Linked DNA regions of Homo sapiens. The protein of the gene in region 7 purifies or fractionates together with the protein of the main gene of each other region. This does not show direct contact. Each region holds a gene or a part of one and is shown on either strand. Other genes may lie near its edges.

Evidence for each region.
Region 1: the proteins of MIDN (region 7) and FAM133B purify together in Homo sapiens (affinity purification with mass spectrometry, with the first as the bait; one large-scale study listed by BioGRID). This does not show direct contact.
Region 2: the proteins of MIDN (region 7) and PCMT1 purify together in Homo sapiens (affinity purification with mass spectrometry, with the first as the bait; one large-scale study listed by BioGRID). This does not show direct contact.
Region 3: the proteins of MIDN (region 7) and HNRNPA0 purify together in Homo sapiens (affinity purification with mass spectrometry, with the first as the bait; one large-scale study listed by BioGRID). This does not show direct contact.
Region 4: the proteins of MIDN (region 7) and HIGD1A purify together in Homo sapiens (affinity purification with mass spectrometry, with the first as the bait; one large-scale study listed by BioGRID). This does not show direct contact.
Region 5: the proteins of MIDN (region 7) and RALA purify together in Homo sapiens (affinity purification with mass spectrometry, with the first as the bait; one large-scale study listed by BioGRID). This does not show direct contact.
Region 6: the proteins of MIDN (region 7) and MPRIP purify together in Homo sapiens (affinity purification with mass spectrometry, with the first as the bait; one large-scale study listed by BioGRID). This does not show direct contact.

What each region holds. Positions count from the first base shown.
Region 1 is NC_000007.14:92,560,258-92,563,324, reverse strand, and holds the end of FAM133B (protein FAM133B), read left to right. Parts: intron 1-956; coding exon 957-1,043; 3' UTR 1,044-2,567; downstream 2,568-3,067.
Region 2 is NC_000006.12:149,805,241-149,808,740, forward strand, and holds part of PCMT1 (protein-L-isoaspartate(D-aspartate) O-methyltransferase), read left to right. Parts: intron 1-62; exon of another isoform or gene 63-99; intron 100-3,500. UniProt on the Homo sapiens protein: Initiates the repair of damaged proteins by catalyzing methyl esterification of L-isoaspartyl and D-aspartyl residues produced by spontaneous isomerization and racemization of L-aspartyl and L-asparaginyl residues in aging peptides and proteins.
Region 3 is NC_000005.10:137,748,150-137,751,148, forward strand, and holds part of HNRNPA0 (heterogeneous nuclear ribonucleoprotein A0), read right to left. Parts: 3' UTR 1-2,999. UniProt on the Homo sapiens protein: mRNA-binding component of ribonucleosomes. Specifically binds AU-rich element (ARE)-containing mRNAs. Involved in post-transcriptional regulation of cytokines mRNAs.
Region 4 is NC_000003.12:42,787,491-42,790,990, reverse strand, and holds part of HIGD1A (HIG1 domain family member 1A, mitochondrial), read left to right. Parts: intron 1-3,500. UniProt on the Homo sapiens protein: Proposed subunit of cytochrome c oxidase (COX, complex IV), which is the terminal component of the mitochondrial respiratory chain that catalyzes the reduction of oxygen to water. May play a role in the assembly of respiratory supercomplexes.
Region 5 is NC_000007.14:39,626,572-39,630,071, forward strand, and holds part of RALA (ras-related protein Ral-A precursor), read left to right. Parts: intron 1-3,500. UniProt on the Homo sapiens protein: Multifunctional GTPase involved in a variety of cellular processes including gene expression, cell migration, cell proliferation, oncogenic transformation and membrane trafficking.
Region 6 is NC_000017.11:17,048,957-17,052,456, reverse strand, and holds part of MPRIP (myosin phosphatase Rho-interacting protein), read right to left. Parts: intron 1-3,500. UniProt on the Homo sapiens protein: Targets myosin phosphatase to the actin cytoskeleton. Required for the regulation of the actin cytoskeleton by RhoA and ROCK1.
Region 7 is NC_000019.10:1,247,228-1,251,382, forward strand, and holds the start of MIDN (midnolin), read left to right. Parts: upstream 1-1,355; 5' UTR 1,356-1,433; intron 1,434-2,660; exon of another isoform or gene 2,661-2,662; 5' UTR 2,663-3,069; coding exon 3,070-3,302; intron 3,303-4,155. UniProt on the Homo sapiens protein: Facilitates the ubiquitin-independent proteasomal degradation of stimulus-induced transcription factors such as FOSB, EGR1, NR4A1, and IRF4 to the proteasome for degradation. Promotes also the degradation of other substrates such as CBX4.

The DNA.
Region 1 (3,067 bases), on a different chromosome or scaffold from region 7:
TAATATTCCCTATGTACTTCAAACATGTAGTGAGAAAAGAATGTTGAAAATTAGCTTAGTGCCACAGAGTGGTAGAGGCCTTTGAGAGAGGGGAGAGTAGATAGTGCTGATAGATAGGAAATGGATAGGAAGCTCTGCTGTTACCATCCTTATAGGTCTCTTCTTTTTTGCTTTTCATTTTCTTCTCTTGAATATCAGTACACTAGCAGCAGTCTCTCATTTGGTACCACCTTTCCAAGTATCTGTGTTTCTAAAAGTTCTGCGTTCTATAACAAAAATAGGAGAGTCAGACTTCAGCAAAACTCCAGCTCCCTTCAATCCACTCACAGTTTAACTACTTCTACCGGGCATTAGTGGCATTTTCTTCTAAAAATCAGACATCTGTTTTGCTTAACAAAGTAGACTTTTTAACTATACATTGATACTTTGTACTAATTAGTTGATTTTAATTTAATAATTTAATAATTAATGACAGCAACTTCAAGTAGTGCTGCCAGTCTGAGCAGTACACAATGCCTGTGTACCTATTTACTTAAAACTGGCAAATTTAATATCTCTGTTCTGTCTGAAAACTATTTTACAAAAACAATTATGTTTTTATTTGGTTACTCCATTCCAGTAACTGCAATTACTTTACCTTTAGAAGTTATATAGCATGAAATAATAGTGATTGGTAGCATGATTCAATTGAATTTATTTCCTACAGGAAATTTTGTTAGAAGTTATGTTAATATGCTAATGACTTAAGAGTTTCTCCCTATCTTTTTGAAAATCGACAAGAACTGTTTTAGTCCTCATATGATACTGGTTGTTGAGACTTTTTGAGGAATGTTTTGAGTAGTTTTCTTGGTTGTGTGGATTGTTTGGAATTATGTGGTAGCTTAGAAGCATGGTAAAGATGCTTTTAATTTGCGTATTTTTATATAGTAATGTCTAACATGGAATTATCTTTACAGGAAAAAACAAAAAAGAAAAAGAAGCATAAGAAACACAGTAAGAAGAAGAAAAAGAAGGCTGCTAGTTCAAGTCCTGACTCACCATAACATTAAGAAAAATCAGGATTCCCTTATAAAGAAAGTGCAATGTCTGAGGAAATTTCAACTGTGAAAACTACAACATATTTACTAAAATGCATGAATTTTCTTGTTTTTGGAATTATTCCTGGACTATTCAGTAGCCACTCAGATGCCACTGTGTGAAAGGGCCATAAATGTTGCCTGCTGCTTGAACATCTATTTTTTTCTCTTCCAGTGCTTGATAACTCTGGGAGATAATACACTGCAGTCGTACTAGTGGTTAAGATATTTGGGAATAAAATTAATACTTTTGACTAGAAGCGTCTAAGGATAAACCAACAGAAATTGAATCTGGATACATCTTTAAGATGTAATCAGAAATGACCAGATGACTCTAGTTAGAATTTTTGAAGGAGGGATTACATTAATATTTCAAAACCCTTACTCTGTAGATAAGTGTATTTTAATTTTTTCCCCTCGTATACTTTTATTTACCTGGGGAAGGAGCTTTTAGGGTTGGGGGGTGGTTTGCTATCTCTTTAGCTAGCAGAATAGTGTGCCTTTGATCCTCACACATCCTGTATTATGGACACAGTAGCCATGCTTCACGGGGAGGTCAGAGCTGGCTACCAGCAGTCTTGCCCTTTACTGAGCTTAGTGTCATCTTTGGATGCTGTCATATGCTGCTTTGAGTGAACCAGAGAAACAGCCATTTGCAGCATGAGAAAGCCCCAAAAGCTCTGGGATTTACCTCCACTTTAGTAATAATGAATATTTTTTAGCATTAGAATGTGTTATGTCATTTGAATTAATTTTGACTACACTTTGGCTTGGGAGAGGAATTATTTTAAATAGACATTGGTACTTTTTGAACTTGATAGCTAAAGATTCTAAAATGCATGTTTTATACTAAGTTTTAACCAGTCAGGAAAATTTTATGTAACTAGTGATAGTTTATTTTTTTGTATGAATTTTGTTTAGGCTGCAATGTTTAGCTTTTGTTAACTCCTCACTCTTGCTGTCTTAAGTTCATTACTATGTTTAATGGCCTACTTGCCAAGATATTTAGCATGTAAAAAGCAGGGTTTTGATTAAAAAAAAAAAACGGCTTCATATTGAAGCTGAGACTTACAATAACAAGTTGAGTGGCAAGCCTGGTATGCTGTGTCTTATTGCCAGAATCTTAGTAAATGTAATGTTTTAAAAGTTTGTTGTCTTTGTATATTAATAACAAATTATGACAAGTTAAGTTTAAATAAGAGTTACATTATTGCTCTCCCTGTGTCATATTTTACTAAGATTTTGTGCCTCATGTCTACTGCTGAATTGTTTACTAGGAATGTTAAAAGGAATTGATAATTCATTTTCATTTTACATTTTTATATAATCAGGTAACATGACATACAACTTGATGTACAATTTTGCCTGTTACAAAGGGTGTGCTAATTATAGTGGTATATGCACAGAACATGTTGGCATGACAACAGGCTGAATAAATAGCTATTTTACTTAAAAATAGCTGTGTTCTTATCAGCTCCCTTTGGACTGCAAGTAAACTTACAAAGATAAACACTCCTAGATGTTAAGCTGGAAATAGATAAGACATGTCCCTAAATTTTTAGCTATTAAAAAAACACATATCTTGGTTTCTTATACTCAAAGCTGCATGCTATTTCCTAATAAAAGATATCTGTATGCTTTTGAATACACAGAAAATTCAAGGGACATTTTGCATCCAAAAGGAAGTTTCCTAGAATTGTTGTTCATGAAAATGCCAGAAGATAAGTTGATCAGATTACATGGTCATCACTTTTGTTACGACATGGAAGTGCAGGTTTACAGACTAGTCCAATAGGTATATAAAGATTGTATTCCACTAGAAGCAACTGTTCATTTTATTAGACGGGGAAGAAGGTGATTTGGTGAAAAACTATATTCTTTCCAGAATGTGTTAACTGTCTGGGCAACACTTTTTTCTAGTCCTCTGTTGGTAGCCTTAACAGCCTCCTAACAAAGTATGGAAAGAAAAGAAAATTTGACAGAATAATTTT
Region 2 (3,500 bases), on a different chromosome or scaffold from region 7:
ATATTTAGAATAATTTTTAAATTTATGGACAATTAGTCATCTGCTAAACATTAAATGTATACCTGCTTTTAGGCTGGGCGCAGTGGCTCACGCCTGTAATCCCAGCACTTTGGGAGGCCAAGGCGGGCAGATCACAAGGTCAGGAGATCGAGACCATCCTGGGTAACATGGCGAAACCCCGTCTCTCCTAAAAATACAAAAAAATTAGCCGGGCGTGGTGGCAGGTACCTCTAGTCCCAGCTACTCGGGAGGCTGAAGCAGGAGAATGGCGTGAACCTGGGAGGCCGAGCTTGCAGTGAGCTGAGATCGCGCCATTGCACTCCAGCCTGGGCAACAGAGCGAGACTCCGTCTCAAAAAATGTATACCTGGTTTTCTTTTTGACCTTCAAAGTTTTTTAAAAATTGAACAAATTTAGGCTGGGCACAGTGGCTCACGCCTGTAATCCCAGCACTTTGGGAGGCTGAGGCGGGCGGATCACGAGGTCAGGAGATCGAGACCATCCTGGCCAACATGGTGAAACTCCATCTCTACTAAAAAAACAATACAAAAATTAGCTGGGCGTGGTGGCAGGCACCTGTAATTCCAGCTACTCGGGAGGCTGAGGCAGGAGAATCACTTGAACCTGGGAGGTGGAGGTTGCATTGAGCCTACATTGTGCCACTGTACTCTAACCTGGCGACAGAGTAAGACTCTGTCTCAAAAAAAAAAAAAAAAAATTGAGCAAACTTACATGTTCGCACTATCAGAAAAAAAAAAAATTTCTCCAGGTGTACCAGGAGGACTTTCTAATTTTTCTGTTGTAGATGCTTTTCTTTGGCCATTTGTTCAGTTGCTAAATATTTTTCAGCGTGAGGATCTTCTTAATATTATTCGTGAATTCAACCAATATGCATATGCCAACTAGGCCAGGCACTGTACTAGGTGCCAGGAGTCATCAGCTGTGAATTTGAAACTGACTGCTCTCATGGAGCTTACAGTAACGTAGGAGATGCAAAGACCAAGATGAATAGGCAGTTATAGGGTAGTGTTCAGACTCGCGGTAGGGAGCCAGGCATTGAAGTGGTCAGAATTACATTTCAGAAAGATAACTCTAGCTGTTATGTAGAGACTAGCCTGGGAAGGGACAAAAGTCGAGTCAGAAACAGGAAGTGGTTATAGCAATTCAAGGATGAAATGATGGTCTGCATTAAGGCAGTGTTAGTAAGGATAGAGAGAAGTGGGTGGATAGCTACATCTAAAATACTGTCACTGTTTTCTGGGAATTATCATCTAAAAAGTTCCCTAGTCAACTTCTTGCCAGGCTACGTGATTTCTGTTCTTTCAAACTTTCCGTTTTTGTTTTTGTTTTGTTTTATTTTGTTTTGTTTTGATACAGTCTCTCTCTGTCACCCAGGCTGGAGTGCAGTGGCATGATCTCTGCTCACTGCAGCCTCAACCTCCTGGGCTCAAGCGATCCCCCCTGCCTCAGCCTTCTGAGTAGCTGGGACCACAGGGTGTGCCACCATACTCAGCTGATTTTCTTGTTTTTTTTGTAGACAAGGGGTTTTGCCATGTTGCCCAGGCTGGTCTCGGACTCCTGAGCTCAAGCGTTCCACCCACCTCAGCCTCCCAAAGTGCTGGGATTACAGGCTTGAGCCACCAGCCTCAAACTTTCTTCAGGATTACTTTAACTCATTATAATACTTTCCTAGGAACCTTCTCTTGTGTCTCACCAGCTTTCCACCTTTCTTACTGAGGAATAATCCAGAGCTAATTGCGGTGCTCTGATGAGGGTGAGATCCCATTTTTGCTGAGGCGATGTGGCAGAAACTGTATTTTTAAAAATGAGAATTAGTGGACATGTGGAATTCTAGTACCAAGTAAAGATCCAAACTTGAATGTAGACTTGAGTCTTTTTACACTTGGAAAGATGTCACTTGTAATTTTGGTGGATTAATAGAAGGGGAGACAATGCCAGATCTATAGGCCAGAGACCTAGAATCTGTGGAATTGTGTTCATGACTATGGACATGTAATAGTTGTATTAGTTGCTACAGAAAGTTAATAGTTCTTAAGTATTATTTTATTTTAAATAAATAATTTATATGTAAAAATATTTTGTTAATCTTCTGGTAAAAGTTTTATTTTTATTTATTTATAGATATTTTTGAGACAGAGTCTTGCTCTGTCACCCAGGCTGGAGTGCAGTGATGCGATCTTGGCTCACTGCACCTCCGCCTCCTGGGTTCAAGTGATTCTCCTGCCTCAGCCTCCCGCATAGCTGGGACTACAGGCACGCACCACGAGGCCCGGCTAATTTTTGTATTTTTAGTAGAGACGGGGTTTCACTGTGTTGACCAGGCTGGTCTCAAACTCCTGACATCAAGTGATCCACCCGCCTCAGCCTCCAAAACTGCTGGAATTACAGGTGTGAGCCACCACACCCAGACTATTTTTGTTTTTAGTAGTCACAAGAGTTAGTGTAATTGGTCCATCTTTAGTTTGTGAAACTGAGGAATGTTCAAGTTTATTATTCCATAAGCTCTTTGTTTATTGATGTCTTCTTAAAGTGCCTTGCATCTATGAAAAAGATGTTAGGAATTGACTGCATTTCCAAGACTGACAGTATTGGTGCTAAGGGATCCAATTGATCCCGTGTTCCATATTCTATATTGTTCCTTTTTAATCTCTTTACATATGTTCCAGTATTGTGACATACATTACATCCTTAAAAGCAGGGATATATTCTGTTACTTTTGGAATTCTTTTTGTCTCTCATAGTGCTTCGTACAAAGCAAATTGTACAACACTTTTATTACCTTGGAAGATCCATGAAATTATTAGAAAACGTTCATGGATTTTGATTGTTGTTTCCTTATAGTATATCTTTTCATTTATTCTTGGTAAAGAATGTATAAGACTAAATGTTAGTATCATAGAGTTAATAAAATCTAATAAATAATTAAATTATGTATAATTATATACTAGTAGAAATATATACAGTTATTAACCTAATGAATATATTTAGCATAGTATATAGCAATTTTAAAGAGCCTTTCTAAAAATTTAGTACATACTATTTTTTATTGTAAATGATCTATACATGTAAGTCAGATAAAGAAATGGTCATACAGAATTTTGAACATTGGGGAAAATTTAATAACTTGAAAGTTACATGGATTTTAGAGTATTAGGCTTTTAAAAAATTGTGCACGCGCTGGCAGCAAGTTTTTGTTTTTCCCTAGCACCTCTAATTTTAAAATTCAGGTCTATAAACCTAATTTCTTTTCCTTTTTTAAAGTATTTTTTAGACAGAGAGGATAGTTGGAAAAATGGTACCTATGTTGTTGAGGGGGCATTAATTTATTTACAGTATACTTAATGTCTTGCAGCAGGTAAATTGTAGTAAATTATTATTATTATTATTGTTTTCTGAGATGGAGTCTCGCTCTGTCGCTCAGGCTGGAGTGCAGTGGCGTGATCTCAGCTTGCTGCAACCTCCGCCTCCCTGGTTTAAGCG
Region 3 (2,999 bases), on a different chromosome or scaffold from region 7:
CTGTCCTCCACCTAAAATGCCCTCTTTCTCCTCCCACCTTCTCTATAAGACCTATCTTTTAAGGTTAAATGTTATATGCTCCACAATGCCTCTCTTGATCCTTCTTCCTACCTGAAGTCACCTCTCCTCAACACTCACATTATTTATACCTTCCTAATATTAACAAATACTTAAAACATTACAGATGGCTAGCAGAATTCATCTCTCTCCTACTAGAGTTGAAGCAGCAGTGATTTAGAGAACTACCACATGGAAGCTCACCCAGCAAGTAAAGAGCAAAGCCTAAAGACCATGCATATCTCGGGTACTAAGATATAAAAGTATGCCTTTTGCTAGTCTGTCCCACCTCTTCATTAGGGGCCATATAGTAAAATTACTGTGTACCAGAGACTACAGTAAGCCCTTCTTTATATGCATTCTTTCACTGAATCTGCCCAACAATCCTATGTAGCAGGTATTACCATAGCCTATTTTTTTACAAATAAGGCAAGTGAGGCTCGGGCCAGTTTGTCCAAGGTCGCAGTGCTAGAAAGTGACTGTGTCAGGAACAGAATTTGGTCTATTGGATGCCCAAATTTACGTCCTTAAGGGCTATGAAATATTAAATCAGATACCCACTATGAAGCAAATTACATTTGCAACGTAAGCATCAAAGACAAAATACACCTTTGATTTCTAAAAAGTAATCAATTAAGGAGAAAAGAGTCTTAATTTTCATCAGAGAATGTACATTCAATGACAATGGAGCTAACTCCAATTTTGATGGTGTGAACAATATGAGATTGTGACACAATGCTGTAAAGGAAAAGATGCATCATCTCAAAATAAATTGAATTCCCATTTCAAAATAAATTGAATTCCAACCAGAACGCAAGGTATATGAAGACAGCAACCATGTTTGTCTCACTGCTGTGTACCTCCACATTATAGAACTGTCTTACACAAAGGTGCCTAACACCCAATGAAATTGACGGTAAACACTGGGAAATAAGCACACTGTTTAAATGGCAAAAGTTTACACTTGAGAACTTTATAGCAGGAAATGATAGCTATTTCAGATAGATTTTTTAAGTAAACCATACAAAGTGGTAAAAGAATTAAAGAGACAAAGAAAGCCTGCCTGAATAGAGAAGGAAACAGTTAAGAATAACTACCAAAGGTGTCTTCCTGAATCCTTTCCCTCTCTGAAGGTTCAAATCATCTGGCTTCAAATCAAAGTAAAAAAAATAGGTGGAAAATAGAGAATTGCCCTTCTAGTCTTCCTACTTTGGAATTCCTTTTTAAATAGCAGCTTTCAAATATCTTTTTATAATAAATGTTTTACCTTGTAACATTTAAATTCTCATTCAAGGCAAATATGAAGTTCACTCAAAAGCAGGACAGCTAAGGAGTTATTTGACTAGGCAGTCTTTGTTGCTGTTTCAAAAGGCCAAAATAAGGCTGAGGAGGAAAATTTCCCCAATGATCACTCTTAAAGTGATTCAATAAATTGGTTACGATGGAGAAAGACACTTAGCCTAAGTGCAAGTGCTGTCTTTTTGGGTAAAATCCGTGTAGTCTAGATGCAGTTCTGCTCCAAATCCAACATCCAAATGCCTATCTGCAATCAGCAGACGCGGGCAGACAAAATTTAACCTAAAATGCAAACTCTCAAAACTTAAGCACACTTAAAAGGTAAACTAAGTTTACAAATCCAATAACTGATACCATCACTTCTGGTTTTGAAGGAAATCATAAATGCAAATTTCTCAAGTATCCTCAATCTTTTAGGTTTACTTAAAAATTATGAAAATTAGATTTGAATATGAAACGTTCCAAATCACTAAGTTAAAAATGGATGAATGGGTACAATCAGTATAGTCATTCTGATTTGATAGTTATCACTGTGAACCTTAACCACTTGCAGGCTTTTTTTTGGATACAGTAAATCAGTACCAATGAGAGCTTTTTAAATGACCTGAAAAACACTACAGATATTCCAATCAAAAAATCTAAAATGCTCCAAAATCCGAAATTTTTTGAGTGCAGACATGACATTCAAAGGAAATGCTCATTGAAGCAGTTTGGATTTTACATTTTTGTATGAGAGCTGCTCAGCTGGTAAACATAATGGAAATATTCAAAAATTGAAAAAAATCTAAAACTCAAAACACTTCTGGGCCCAAGAATTTCAGATAAGGAATACTCAACCTGTATCATCTCTAACAGCCTTTCAAACCACTTTCAACTAATGACTACTGAATTTATACTTTTAAAAGAATGTAAATGCCAAAGATCTTCACATTAAGATGAAAAATAGGAGGTTCACTTTTATTTTGCTAATCCGTCAAAATACATTCAAGCATGGCACAAAAATTATATTCAACACTAGGTTCTGTACCACCTGCTCCCATGAACTCTTAAATCTGAATAATGTTCAGATAATTTTCATAGGTGGAAGTGGTCAAAACATACAACCAATTGTCCCTCCTCCCCAAGTCCCACATGCCAAAATGTTTGCATATAAACTGACAAGAGGAACCCAGAAGTGACTAAATACCACTATGCTTTTTTCTTCACTACAAATAGCAATTTTAAGGGTAGACACATGACAATGAAGTGTTAATATACCATGAACAGAACAGGTTGCCTTCCTAATACACAGAAAATCCTTTTACATAATTCATTTGCAAACTTTAGAAGCCACTATATTCCCATGTTGGGAATAATATGACAACCTTATTAAACTGAAAACCCTGAGAAAGGTGTACTATTCCAATTGACCCAGATCTTCCCACCAAAACTGAGTAAGTCAAGCAGAGTAGTATTTAACAATTACAACGAAAAATTTCAGAGAATCATTTTCTGTATCCTAGAGGCCACTCTACAGCCACCAAAAAGCTGGACCAAATTACCAAATGAAGTAGCCCACATGTAATTTGTGTATCACTAGAATTAAAAAATAAGACAGAAATGTATGGAAAGTGTACAACTATTTGAGAGCAAAGGATTTGACTATG
Region 4 (3,500 bases), on a different chromosome or scaffold from region 7:
TTAAAAAGAGCTTGCCTGTTTACTTTGAAATTAGCTTGTTAATTGCAGCTACTCAGCAGGCCAAGGCAGGAGCGTCACTTGAGCCCAGGAGTTCAGGGCTGTAGTGTATAATGATCATGCCTGCGAATACCCACTGAACTCTAGTCTGGGAAACATAGGAAGACGCCGTGTCTGAAAAAAAGAGAGAAAAGAAAAAGAAACTGGCTTGCCCAGTCCAAAACGGGAAAAATGTCTCATTTTTACATTTGGATTACATTGAATTTATAAATTTGGAGAGAATGGAAATTTTAGAATGTGGTGCATCTACTGATTTTCATTCAAACCTTTTGTGTCCTTAAATATGATTTTATTGTTTTCTCTAGGTCTAGAAATTTAATTTCTCTAGATATGCTTTTTAATGTATTCATCAAAGTAATCTTTTTTCTTATTGGTTCTAGTTGTTTTTCTTTCTTTCTTTCGAGACGGAGTCTTGCTCTGTCGCTCAGGCTGGAGTGCAGTGGCACAATCTCAGCTTACTGCAACCTCCGCCTCCCGGGTTCAAGCAATTCTTGTGCCTCAGCCTCCCGAGTAGCTGGTATTACAGGCGCCTGCCACCATACCTGGCTAATTTTTGTAGTTTTAGTAGAGACAGGGTTTTGCCATGTTGGCCAGGTTGGTCTCGAATTCCTGACCTCAAATGATCCACCTGCCTCAGCCTCCCAAAGTACTGGGATTACAGGCGTGAGCCACTGCACCTGGCCTCTAGTTGTGTTTCATTTGATTCTCTTGGATTTCCTATACACACAGTTAGATGATCTGCAAACCAGTAGAGTTTCTTCCTAATTATGCGTATAGTTTTTTTTATGTGATTTAAAATTGTTTAGGATATCCAGGCAACAACAGCAGTATTCACATGTATCCCTGTCTTATTCTGATCTTTAAAGGGAACTTTTTTTTCTTATCTCTTTTTCGTTTTTTAATAAAAAATAAGGCTGAGCACTTTGGCTCATTCCTGTAATCCCAGTGCTTTGCGGGGCTGAGGCAGGAGGATCACTTGAGCCTAGGAGTTCAAGACAGCCTGGGCAACACAGTGAGACCCTGTCTCTACAAAAAAAATTTAAAAATTAGCTGGGCATGGTGCCACACGCCTGTAGTCCCAGCTACTTGGGAGGCTGAGATGGGAGTTTGCTTGAGCCTGGGAGGTCGAAGCTGTGGTGAACCATGATCATGCCACTACAGCCTGGGTGACAGAGCAAGACCCTGTCTCTAAATAAATAAATAAATAGATAAAAATTAAAAATGGAATATTTATAGTGTTTTAACACTAAGTACAATTTGTATTTGCTTTTGGTGTCTGAACTATATTCTAATTTACTTTTACTATTCAGATGTTCACATAGTTTCATCTTTCGTGAATCTTAAGAGATTTTTCGTTTTTTTTTTTGTTCTTGGATGTTCTTCCAGTGAATTCTTTTTTTTAATTTATTTTTTATTAAAATTTTTTTTTTTTGTAGACACAGGTCTCACTCTGTTGCCCATGCTGGTCTCAAACCCTTGGCCTCAAGCAATCCTCCTACCTCAGCCTCCCAAAGTGCTAGGATTACAGGGATGAGCCACTGCTCCTGGCCAAGATTTTCTTATGTAAAAGCAATGGTTAATTCCCAAAGTAGGCCAGGCACAGTGGTTCACACCTATAATCCCAGCACTTTTTTGGGAGGCTGAGGCAGGCAGATCATGAGGTCAGGAGTTCGAGACCAGCCTGACCAATGTGGGGAAACCCCATCTCTACTAAAAATACAAAAATTAGCCGGGTGTGGTTGGCACATTCCTGTAATCCCAGCTACTCGGGAAGCTGGGGCAGGAGAATCACTTGAACTCAGGAGTCGGAGGTTGCAGTGAGCGGAGATTGCACCACTGCACTCCAGCCTGGGTGACAGAACAAGACTCCGTCTCAAAAAAAAAAAAAAAAAAAATTCCCAAAGTAAAAACCTAATGATCATGGTTGATAATATTATTCTAATACATTTTAAAGTTGATAAGCTAGTATTTGGTTTAGGAATTTTATATCTATGTTTATAATTTATATTGCTTTGTAATTCTCTTCTCATGGCTTTTTTTTTTATTTTTTAGTTTTTGGAGACAGTCCCGCTCTGTCGCCCAGGCTGGAGTGCAGTGGCAGGATCTCGGCTCACTGCAGCCTCTGCCTCCTGGGTTCAAGTGATTCTCCTACCTCAGCTTCCTGAGTAGCTGGGACTACTCCCGCCACCACACCAGGCTGATTTTTGTGTTTTTAGTAGAGACGGGGTTTCACCATTTTGGCCAGGCTAGTCTCGAACTCCTGTTTTCAAGTGATTCACCTGCCTCGGCCTCCCAAAGTGCTTGGATTACAGGTGTGAGCCACTGCACCCAGCCTCTTATGTTATCTTAATTTTGTTTTGGTATCAGGGATTTGTTTTCTTGGAAAATATATTGGAAAAAAATGTATTGCTATGTTTTTAATGCCCTGGAATACTTTAAATAACATGAATTGAGAATGCCCTTATAATTTTTATTAGACCTTGTTAATGAAACTATTGGGGTCTTTATCTTTTGGGGATAAAGCATGGATTGCCCATTTAATTCTTTCTATGGTTATTGGTATAGAAAGGTTTTCTACAACTTCTTGAATCAAATTTAGGAATTTGTATTCTCCTCAGAAATCATTCATTTCACCTAGATTTTCAAATTTAATTGGCAAAGAGCAATCATCTCTTATTTTTAAAAATCTCTTTATCACTTGTGATTATATCCACTTCCTCATTCCTAATGTCGTATGTTTATTTTCTCTTTGATCAGACTTCCTAGAGGTTTTACAATTTTATTTGTTCTAAGAACCAGTACTGTTTTTATTTTTCAAATAATGTTTGATAGCTTCCTAATCTCTCAGTTTTTACTTTAACCTCCAAATCTAGTTATTGGTGCTCAGCTTCTCAGTGGTTAGAGGTGGGGGTATGTGTGTGGTTGTTTTACGTTTTGATTGCTAAGTTTTGGCCTTATGGTAGTCATCCAGGAAGAAGGACTTTTTGGAAGTTGGAATTTTCTTTGTGGCCTAATAAATGATTGGTTTTGTCAAAGCTTCATAGACATTTTAAAGAATGTGGGATCTCTGTTTTAAATTAAAATATTAAATTTTATTTATTTTTAAGAATTTAAGTAAGTTTATTTAATGGTGCCGTGCAATTCTGTAGCTTTAGTTTGGGGCTTCTTATTCTGTTGTTTTCTGAAAGAGACAGATTTTCCCATTTTGTTGTCTTCTAATAGAGCTAATCTTGTGTTCCTAACAATTTTTGCTCCATTTATTTATTTTGCTGCTATATTAGATTATTTTAAAGTTTTATGACTTTAAAAATTTATATATATATATATATATATATATATTTTTGAGATGGAGTCTCGCTCTGTCGCCCAGGCTGGAGTGCAGTGGTGTGATCTCGGCTCACTGCAACCTCCGCCTCCCAGGTTCAAGCATTCTCCTGCCTCAG
Region 5 (3,500 bases), on a different chromosome or scaffold from region 7:
TCTCTTTTATCTTCAGCGTGCCTACAAATACAGTGTTATCACCGTCCATGTGTGCCATGATGGAAAAATGGTTGGGCATTTTTCCCGTGGGTGTCCCGGTAAAGTATTTGGACTCAATTCTGGTGTTTGATTAGTGCTTTTTAAAGTAACAGAATCGTCCCTATTTGAGAGGAATACCATAAATCTATTTGTAGTGACCTTTCCTTGAAATCACATTTTTTTTAGTTCGTTCTTTCACTAATGGAAATGGGGGAGAAGCTATGGGGGACAGTAGAAAGAATGGTAAAAGAAGCAGAGATGTGCTTGGTCTGTTTTTAACCGTTTGAGACCATTAATCATTTTCTCTGGGTTTAAGATGGAGGCTTAAAAGTGGCAGAAGTCTTGTAAGGGTTTAGCTGCTATTCAGTGCTGGTAGAATTCTCTTCCCTCCTAAGCCTGTGCACTTTTTAAAATGCACTTTTAAATAGGCTTAATTTGAAGAATGTGTCCATCTCTCTCTCTCTCTCTTTTTTTTTTTTAAAAGATGTACCCTTAAGTAAAAAACAGCTGATTGTCTGGCCCCCATAAGTAACAGTTATTCTGTTTTTTCTTTAAGACATCTTTCTTATTACCTTATCGCATTCATAAGGATTTGGGTTGCCGTATAGAAAAAAAGAAATTAAAGTTCTATGGGTTTCTAAAATATGTATGAGTAAATTTTAGGTGAGAATTTGCATCTTTGATTTAATTATACGTGAAGGTGATGACTTAGTTTCTGAAAGTCAAGAGGGTAGTCTTTACAAGCCAAAAAAGGCATGCTTCCATAAAATTATACTATTCTTAAAGGCCTTCACAGCTAGGGTCCTATATTAGATGCAATAGATGTAACACTGACATACATAGTCTCCTTAAAGTCTGGGATCCAATTTTATTGCTGAATTTACTTTTGAAACTAAATGTCAGGGTTTGGTAATGTTATTTTGGACAATAAGACATAGTTAGATTATAAAATGGCGTATACTCCCAGATTTATTGGGAAGGTGGGCAAAGATCCCCCAGTTTCCAAAAGTTATGATTATGGTCATCTAAGCCACAGGATCTGTTTTCTTATGTAGTTGAGAAGCTAACATAGTACTCCATTAAAAGTGGAGGTTGCCACACTGCGTGACCAAACACTGAGTTCAGCTGCCCTGTCTAGATATTCTGGATTACTACAGCAGCCTTCTAGCCTATGGTTGGAACCCATCTGATACTTTTCCCATTCTTGCTTAGAACAATGGTGATATTTCTCTGCTTAAAATCCTCTTGTGGCTCTTTTTTGCCCATTAATAAAATTCAAACTCCATTTATCCTTAATCTCATATACAAAACCTTCAAGATGTGCTCCTTACCTAACTCTCTTTTTTCCCCTTTATCTTTCATATTTTTCATTTTTTTTCTTACCTAACCCTTTAGCCTTATCTCTCTTCTTGGATGATCTTTTGTTCTACCAATACCCAGCTTCTGGAATGCTAGTGTTTGTTTACTCAGTCCTCCATTTCCTCTTCCTGGAATTCTAGCCTCTCTTCCTTCCCCTAATCTAGTATACTCCTACTGGTCCTTCAGAACTCAGTTTAGGTTATAATTCTCCAAAAAATTACAATTAGGTTCTCTCTCTGGATCCCATCCCTCAAAAAACAAAAAACAAAAAACCTTTAAGACTGGGCTGATTGCTTCTCTTATGTGCTGTCATAATATCTGTTACAGCTCTTAACTACACTGGAGAGAGTACTTTCATTAGCCTATTGTAAATTTTGTTGACAGCAGTCCACAGTAACCTCATAACTACACACACACACACACACACACACACACACACACACATTCTTTCTCTCTCTTAAAGGCCTTCTTCGTAGGCCTTTATCAGTCAAGTGCCCAAACTTTCTCAATTCATGGCACCCTTATTATCGCAGTAATTTTTTTCACAGCATCCCTAGGTCAAAAGAAACACCTAACAGTTTAATTTTTTTGTTTTTTGTTTTTTGAGACGGAGTCTCGCTCTTTCACCCGTGCTGGAGTGCAGTGGCGCGATTTCGGCTCACTGCCGCCTCCACCTCCCAGGTTCAAGCAATTCTCCTGCCTCAGCCTCCCGAGTAGCTGGGATTACAGGCACGCGGCACCATGCCTGGCTAATTTTTTGTATTTTTAGTAGAGACGGGGTTTCACCATGCTGGCCAGGCTGGTCTCGAACTCCTGACCTCGTGAGCCATGTGCCTCAGCCTCCCAAAGTGCTGGGATTACAGGCGTCAGCAACCATGCCTGGCCAGTTTAATTTATTAAGTAATTAGGTCTGAACAACTTAATAAGTATGTATCTCCTAACAAGTCAGTAGCTGTGTGAAAAGATAAAATACATAAACTAAAATCAGTAACTTTCATTCTTAACTGCTATCGTGTATGTACCATAGTTTTCTCGACTAATGTCCTGTTTGAACATTTAAGTAATATCTAATATTTTGCAATTACAAATGATGTTACAGTGAAAAACTTTGTGTACATGTATCTTTGTATTGTTGGAGAGATACATCTTCAGGATAAATGCATATGTAGAGTTGTTAGGTACTGTCAAACTCCTCATCCTGTGGGGTTATACTATTTTGCATTCCTACCAGCAGTGTATGAGAGTAGAGTGCTTATTTCCTCACAGCCTCACCAGCAGTGTTTTGTCAGCTTTTGAATTTGTGCTGATCTAATAGGTAAGAAATTGTATCTCAGTGTATTTTCCATTTGTACTTCTATTACAAGTGAATTGAACATGTTTTCATATGTTTAAGGGTCATTTTAATATTTATTTTTATTGTTCATATTATTTGCTCACTTTCTTTTCTTTTCTTTTTCCTTTTTGAGATGGAGTTTCGCTCTGTCGCCCAGGCTGGAGTGCAGTGGCACGATCTCTGCTCACTGCAACCTCTGCCTCCCAGGTTCAAGCGATTCTCCTGCCTCAGCCTCCTGAGTAGCTGGGATTACAGGTGCACGCCACCACGCCTAGCACGTTTTTGTATGTGTGTATGTATTTATTTATTTATTTTGAGATGGGGTCTCACTCTGCCAGGCTGGAGTACAGTGGCGCCATCTCAGCTCACTGCAACCTCTGCCTCCTAGGTTCAAGCGATTTTCCTGCCTCAGCCTCCCGAGTAGCTGGGACTACAGGCGCGTGCCACCACGCCTGGCTAATTTTTTGTACTTTTAGTAGAGATGGGGTTTCACCGTGTTAGCCAGGATGGTCTCGATCTCCTGACCTCGTGATCCACCTGCCTCGGCCTCCAAAAGTGTTGGGATTACAGGCATGAGCCACCGTGCCTGACCCTAATTTTGTATTTTTAGTAGAGATGGGGTTTCACCATGTTGGTCAGGCTGGTCTCAAACTCCTGACCTCGTGATCCGTCCACCTCAGCCTCCCCAAGTGCTAGGATTACAGGCGTGAGCCACCATGCCGAGCTTTCTTTTACTTTTTTTCTTTTTTTTGAGACAGAGTCTTGCTGG
Region 6 (3,500 bases), on a different chromosome or scaffold from region 7:
ATCCCTCACCTGCATAATGTGGGGGAAAGGCAGGGAGGGCAGGTGCAGACAGCCCCAGCAGGTCCCTCTTCCCAGGGCTAGGAACTAGAAGTCCAGGAAACAGCTGTGATTTATTCTGCAGCACTGCAATATACCAATCTCCCTACTACCCATCTGCCCCGGGGCCAAACAAAAACACTAAGGAGTTTACAAAGCAAAGTGGCCTTCCCAAGGACAGGGAGGATGAGTCTGGAGCCAGGGTGGAGTCTGGAGCCAGGGTGGACTCTGGCACGGGAGCCTCATGGAGCTGAAATCTGTATCACGGCCCCATTGCTGAGCAGCTCAGTGACCTTGGGCAGGCCGCTCAACCACTCTGAAAACTCAGGGTCCCCTCCTCCGAGGGAGGCCTTGCTGCCACCAGCCCTGCTGGCCACCCTTGCCTGCTGAGGTCTGTGTGAAATCACGGGCTATGACACAATATAGTAGGTAGAGGTTCAAAGGATCCGGCAGGCCCATCCACTCAGAGTCTCGCTGCAAAGCAGCTCTGACACCAGGGCCACCTCTGGCACAGCATGCAACCGCCAAGCTGCGCCCAAGGGGAAGGAGCCAGAAGGGTTACAGGCTCCAGGCAAAAACCAGGCTGTGGTTTCATGTGAACTAGGATGACCCTGACTGAGAAAACCAGTGAGTGGTTTGGAAGATTTCAGTTCCAGCTTCCAGAGACAAAATGTCAGTGAATCAACCCCCTAGGTGCTCTTGCCCCCAACGGAAGTGACAATGCCTTGAGAGCTCTGGGTAGGGCATGGGGGCTCCATTCCAGAGCAGCTGTAAGACTGCCTCAATTGCTAAAACTGGAAAAAGCACAAAATCTAGGGCAGAGTTTTCGAACCTGCCCCAAATGGCCCCAGAGATGACCCAAGGCCCTCCCCCGCCACCCCGCCCCAGGATGGGAGGCCAAGCTCCAGGCTTTGGCTGCCTTGCCCAGAGCTGCACTGCTTTTGATGAAAGCTTGAAAACCATCCACCTGGTCCAACGGTGTCATTCAGCTGAGAAAGAGTGGCTTGGGGAATGAGTTTCCCAGGATAAGAGAAGAGCCCGTTTTCTTAGGTCAGATGCTTCCAAATTAGCACCCAATGATCCTCCATGTCCAGTAGTAGGATGTCTTCCCCTGTGCCTCGCTGCCACACTCTCTCCCTCTTTCAAGACTAAGTGGCAGCTTGGGAACAATTTAAACATTCTGAGTTAAATTTCTTTATTTCTGCTAAAGAACATGAGGTTGCCCAAAGAAAGGCTACTTCCCCCAGAGGCGGCAGCCAGCGTGCTTCCTGGAACATCCCTCACCACATGGGGGGCTCAGGAACTCCCCATTCCATCAGCACACTACTCTGCAAAGAGAAGGCAGGCACCCGCTTTACAGGTGGGAGACATAAGTCACCTTCCTGGGTCACCCTGCACATTTGTGTCAGGAAGAGAACATAGGCCTTGGACTATAGTCCTTCTGTGTGGCAAGGGAAAGAGAAATCAGAGGAAAAGATCAGGTAACAGGCTAGAACCCAGGGAAAAAAGCTAGGGTGCAATTACATAATACTGGAACATTGCACGTCCAGTTTAGAGGGGGATACGCCAGCCTGCCCACCACGGCCCTCACCGGCTCCCCACAGGACAGGCCTGAGGCCCTGGCAAGGACCTTCCTCCCTTCTGCCCCTAAACTCTGCCTCTGGGCAGGGAGTGGGGATCAGAGCCCAGAAGAGAACTTCTAACACACCAAAAGAAGCCATCAAAGATGTGATAGTCAAAGAAAGAAACTTCAAAAGTTGGCAATAGACACCAAGGGCCAAGGAGGAGTGGGGACACAAACAGGAGTAACAAGTCCCAGAGAAGCAGCACTCCAGGAACCTTCCAACCCAAGGCCCAAGGGAGGGACGGAGGAAACTCACCACCACCTGTGGCACCCCAGGGCTGCCACCAGGACTGCGGGCAGCGGCCACACCACCAGGCTACTAAGCAGTGGGAAAGTGGCTCGTCTGAGCTGAAATGTGCTGTAACGTAAAATGCGCACGTCATAACTTTTTTGCATGGTGTAATGACAGTATTTTGGATATATCTGGTTAAATAAAACATAATTAAAATTAATTTCACCTCTTTTTTTTTTTTTTTTTTTTTGAGACGGAGTCTCACTCTATTGCCCAGGCTGGAGTGCAGTGGCGCAATCTCAGCTCACTGCAAGCTCCGCCTCCCGGGTTCACACCATTCTCCTGCCTCAGCCTCCTGAGTAGCTGGGACTACAGGCGCCCACCACCACGCCCGATTAATTTTTTGTATTTTTAGTAGAGACAGGGTTTCACCGTGGTCTCGATCTCCTGACCTCGTGATCCACCCGCCTCGGCCTCCCAAAGTGCTGGGATTGCAGGCGTGAGCCACTGTGCCCGGCCCCGACTAATTTATTGTATTTTTAGTAGAGACGGGTTTCACTGTGTTAGCCAGGATGGTCTTGATCTCCTGACCTCGTGATCCGCCCGTCTCGGCCTCCCAAAGTGCTGAAATTACAGGCGTGAGCCACTGCACCCGGCCCCTCTTTTTACTTTTTTAACGTAGCCGCTGGAAAATTTAAAATTTCCTATGTGGCTTCCATTACAGTTCTAGAGGACAGGGCTGGTCTGAGGGGTGGCACACTGTGCCCCTGTGCCAAATTGGCCCACCAGCTGCTTTTCTAAGACCCCAAAACCAAGAATGGCTTTTACATTTTTAAGTGGCTATATCCTACACAACCTCCTCGATTTTGCCTGTTGGCCTGCAAAACCTAAAATATACAAGATTTCTTTTGAGTAAAAGGCTCCGGGATTTGATGAAAGCTTGAAAACCACCGACCTGGTCCAACTGTGTCATTCAGGTGGGAAAGAGTGGCTTGGGGAAGGAGTTCCCCAGGATAAAAGAAGAGTCCTTTATAAAAAAAATTGCCAAGCCTTGGTCTAGACTCTAGAAACAATCAGATATTCACTCCAGGTGACACAAGGAGCAGAAGGCAGGTGTGTGTGTGTGAGAGAGCGATTCTTGTACAGACAGTCCCTGACTTATAATTTTGACTTTGTGATAGGTCTGATGGGTTTTACCTGGATGTACCCCCACCATAAGTCCCATCATAAGTCAAGAAGCATTTGGAAGTGAACAATTCAGGGGCATTTAGTACATTTCACAAGGCTGTGCAACCAGCACTTTTATCTAGTTCCAAAACATTTCATCACCCCCAAAATAGAACCCCAGTCTCATTAGCAGTCATTCCACATTGCCCACCCAACCCTCAGGCTCTGGCAACAACCGATCTGCTTTCTGTTTCTACAGATTTACCTGTTTTGGACATTTTACATAAATGGAATCACACAGTATGTGACACATGACCTTTCATGTCTGCCTCTTAGCGCAATGTTTTCTAGGTTCGTCCATGTTGTGGCATGTCTCAGTACTTCGCTCCTTCTTAGAACTGAATGATATTCCATGGTATGGATACACTATGATTTGCTTAT
Region 7 (4,155 bases):
GCGTTCAAGCGATTCTCCTGCCTCAGCCTCCTGAGTAGCTGGGACTACAGACACATGCCACCATGCCCAGCTAATTTTTGTATTTTTAGTAGAGACAGGGTTTCACCATGTTGGCCAGGCTGGTCTCAATCTCTTGACCTTGTGATCCGCCCGCCTCGGCCTCCCAAAGTGCTGGGATTACAGGCGTGAGCCACCGCGCCCGACCGCATCATCTTTTTTATGTGACAAACTCCTAGTCATTCCTCAAACCGCAGCCCCTGTGACCCCCTTCCAAGGGTTATCCCAGCCTCTCCCTCTCTGGCCTAGCCCTGACCCTTCGGGGCTGGGTGTGCCTGTCAAGGTGGGGGCCACGGCTGCCGGGAGCATGGGTGGCAGCCGGAAGGAGACCTGGGGAGGAGCGCAGCCCTGGGAGGGGCGCCCATGGCCAGGGTGGGGGTGGAGGTGGTCAGGCCAGATAAAGGGAGGGGCCAGATGAGTGGACAGGAGGTGCTCCCGTAGGAATGGGGTCCCCTTCTCTAAATAGAGGGGCAGGACGGGGCCCACCTCAACCAGGACCATCCTCAAAAAGCCGACGGGGAAGGGTGAGATGCACACCACATTCGTGTCTCATTGGCTGTGGCCTCAGTTTCTTCATCTGTAAAATGGGGTAATGCCCACCCCAAAGGCTGGGAACCAGTGCATGTCCTGCATTAATGGGGGGTGATGGCCCCAAAGTGATCCTGCCGCATCCCCTCACCACACTCCCACCCACCCTGGAGAAACTGAGGCTTGGAGAGGCCAGTTACCTCCCGGGGTCACAGCATAGCCGGCTGGTGACTGGCTGGGCACAAGGCAGGCCTGGCACTGGCTAATCGCTCCATAAATGCCCTCTGAGGTCACCATTGACAGATGCAGGAGGCCAGGGCTGGCCAGGGCACCCCCACTCTACGGCAGGTGACTCCAGCCTGTTTTCCTGGACGACAGCCGCTGACTCAGGCCCCTCTTCCCGTCCCCCCCACGCGGGCGCCCCCAGGCGGAAGCACCGGGCCTGGGGCGACAGGAAGGGGGCGGGGCAGCGAGTCGCGCTGTACACCCCAAAACCCTGTCCCGCTGACGATTCGGGGTGCATCTCAGCCCGCGGCGAGGCGGGCCGAGACCCTTGGCTCGGGGCATTCAAGGGGAGTCCCCCCATGAACTGCGCCAAGCCTGGGTCCCGGGTGGCCCAGCCGTCAAGGCGCCCCAGGGCCAGGGCCGGCAGGCAGGGGCGGGGGCCAGTCTGCGTCACCGCCCGCCCGGCCCCCCGCCCCCCTGCCCGCCCTAACTCCACCCCGAGGGAAGGCGGCGCGGATAAAGGCTGAGGGCCGCGCGCTTGGCCCAGACCGGCCCGGCCAGCGCGCATTCGGCCCCGGACGAAGGTACTCGCAGCACTTGGAGCGCAGAACCGGCCGCGCCCGGTGAGTGTGGAGGGGGGGGACCTGCGGGCCGAGGAAGGGTGCCCACTCTAGATGGCTCAGGATGCCCGCACTTTTCTTTGTTCTTGGGACAGGAGGGATCGGGGAGCCTCCGGTCCTGGGAAGCCCCCCGGGGTGCGGGGTGGGAGGGGCTCCGCGCAGCCAGCGCCGCCCTGGCCGGACCTCAGCCCCCGCCCCGCCCCCCGGGGCACTCCCCCTTCACCGCGGGTGACCTTGAACTGGTTGCCGTTCCGCCCTCCGTTGCCCAGCCACACGGTCCCAGTCTCCCGACTACAGTCTTTCGTTCCCGATCGGGGTTCCTCCCCCGCGCGCAGCCCAGTCGTCTTCCTCCCCTGCCAGGGGCAGCGCGGCGCCCCCTCCCCGGGACTCCGGGCGGCGCTCCCAGGCGGGCCCGGCAGAGGGCGCGCCCGAGCTGCTGACTCACCGCATCCCCGAGCGCGCGCGGGCGCAGCCGGGGACGCCGCGTCACGTCACGGCTCGAGCGGGCGCGCCTCGGGGAAACGGGTTCTGCCCGCGGCCGGCGGGTGGGCGCGCGGGGCCCCCGGCGGCAGCCACCCGGCCACGTCACCGAGGTGCGGGCGCCCCGCCCCGGCCACAACTCCGCCCCCACGCACCACGCCCTCCCCGGGGCCGCGGCCCTAGCCTCACCGTCGCCCGCCCGCCCCGGGACCCCGGCCACGAGGCGCGGACTTCGCGCTCCCGCTTCCGCTCGCGGCTTTTCCCGGACGAAGGCGGCGGGGTGGCCCCACGACTTCCTGCCCCTCCCGGCGCCGGGAACAATGGCCCGCGCCCCCTCCCGCTCCCGGCCGCTCCCTTGGGATCGCGAGGGGTACCAGACCCGTCTCCAGACCTGGGTCCCGCGCCCCCCGGGGCGCGCCCGCCCTTTGTTGCGGGCTCCGGGCGCTTATGAATGGCTGCGGGCGCGGGCGGGGCGGGGGCGGGCGCGGAGAGGCGCCAGCCCCGCCCCCGCTGCGCTCCCCTTGGTCGCCTGGGCGCTGGGGGCGGGGCGAGGGGGCGGGCCCGGCTGCCACGTGGGGCGGTGCCGCGGCGGCTCTCATAGGCCCGGGCTCGCGGCCGACTGGGCGCTCGGCGCGCGGCGATTGGCCGGCGCCCGGCCGGCGGAGTAAGTAGTGAATGGGAGGGGGCGGCGGCCCCGCCCCCTGGAACGTTGATACATTATAACTTTTTTTTCTTGTTACTTTCACCCCCAGATCCTCCGAGCGGCGGCGACGGCTGTTGCTAAGGGAGGGGACGCGCGAGGAAGCGCGACCCGGGCGGCAGACGGCACCCAGCGCCACCAGCCGAGCGGCGCCCCCTCCCCAGGACCCTTAACCGCGCCGCGTCCCGGTCGCGCCCGCCGCCCTTTGAAGGAGAAGCAAGTGCCGTCCCCACCCCCGGAAGGCGCCCCCAGGAGCCGGAGCGACCTCGGAGCGCCACTCGGATTTTGGATTTCGGTCTCGCATTCCGCGGCCGGGACTTTCTCGAGGAGGACGCGCGCTGCTCCGCGCCCCCGAGTGCCCGGAGGACCCGGCATCCGGGGAGCCTCTCGCCCCTGTCCCGGAGGCGCGGCGAGGATTGGCGGCGCCCGCCGCCCCCAGCCCCCCAGCGCGCGCCGGGGATGGAGCCGCAGCCCGGCGGCGCCCGGAGCTGCCGGCGCGGGGCCCCCGGCGGCGCCTGCGAGCTGGGCCCGGCGGCCGAGGCGGCGCCCATGAGCCTCGCCATCCACAGCACCACGGGCACCCGCTACGACCTGGCCGTGCCGCCCGACGAGACGGTGGAGGGGCTGCGCAAGCGGTTGTCCCAGCGCCTCAAAGTGCCCAAGGAGCGCCTGGCTCTTCTCCACAAAGACACGTAGGTACCGCGCGCCCCCGGCCGGCCGCCCCCTCGGGCCCCGGCCCCCGGGCGGGAACAAAGAGCGCGCCGCGCGGGGAAGGCAGGGGGCGGCCAGACAGGGGGCGGGGGCGCGCCGCGCGCTCTCGGGCGCCCTCTGCTCGGCCTCGCCTGCCTCGGCCCCCTCCCCCGCCCGGGGTCGCCGCACAAAGGCGGCTGCGAGGGCGTCCCGGGCCGGGCTTCGGCGGCCCCCCTTGGGGGCGGGCAGGAATCCCAGGGCGTTGCGGGGGTCCCGGCTGCGGGTGTGGGGGCCGCCACCGCCCCCTCCCGCCTGCGTCCGCGCCGGCTTCCGCATCTGCTCGGCGGCCTCCTCTGCGTCTGGCTGTCTCCCCCCACTTGCGTCTCTCTCCCCCCCTTTGTTCTCGCCTCCGAGCGCTCCCCGCAGCCTCCCCTCCCCCCTGGTATTTAAATCGCCTGCAGGCCCGGAGCCCTCCCCCCGCGGGCCTCCGGGGACACGCAGTGTCCATCCCAGTGGAGGGGCCCATCGGGGGAGGGGCGGAGGGGGAGGGTCTCCTTTGTCTGCGCGGCGGCGGCCGCCTGCGCCGGGGAGGGAGGAGGAGGGGGAGCCCGGCCCGGCGCAACCCCCAGGGCCTCTCCTCGGGCCGAAACCCGTGGTTCCTACAAAGAGGAGCCAGGACTAGAATTAGGGAATTGGGGGCAGGGGCTGCCCTGGGGTCGTGGGGGAAGGTGGCATAGAGCACACTGGGGCCCAGAGGAGGAGAAAGTGCCTGGTTGGGGTGCAGAGGGGGTGCCAGAGTCCAGGGCGGGGGTTCCACTGGAGGGAAGGGGTCCGAATCGCCAGGATGGGGCTCCC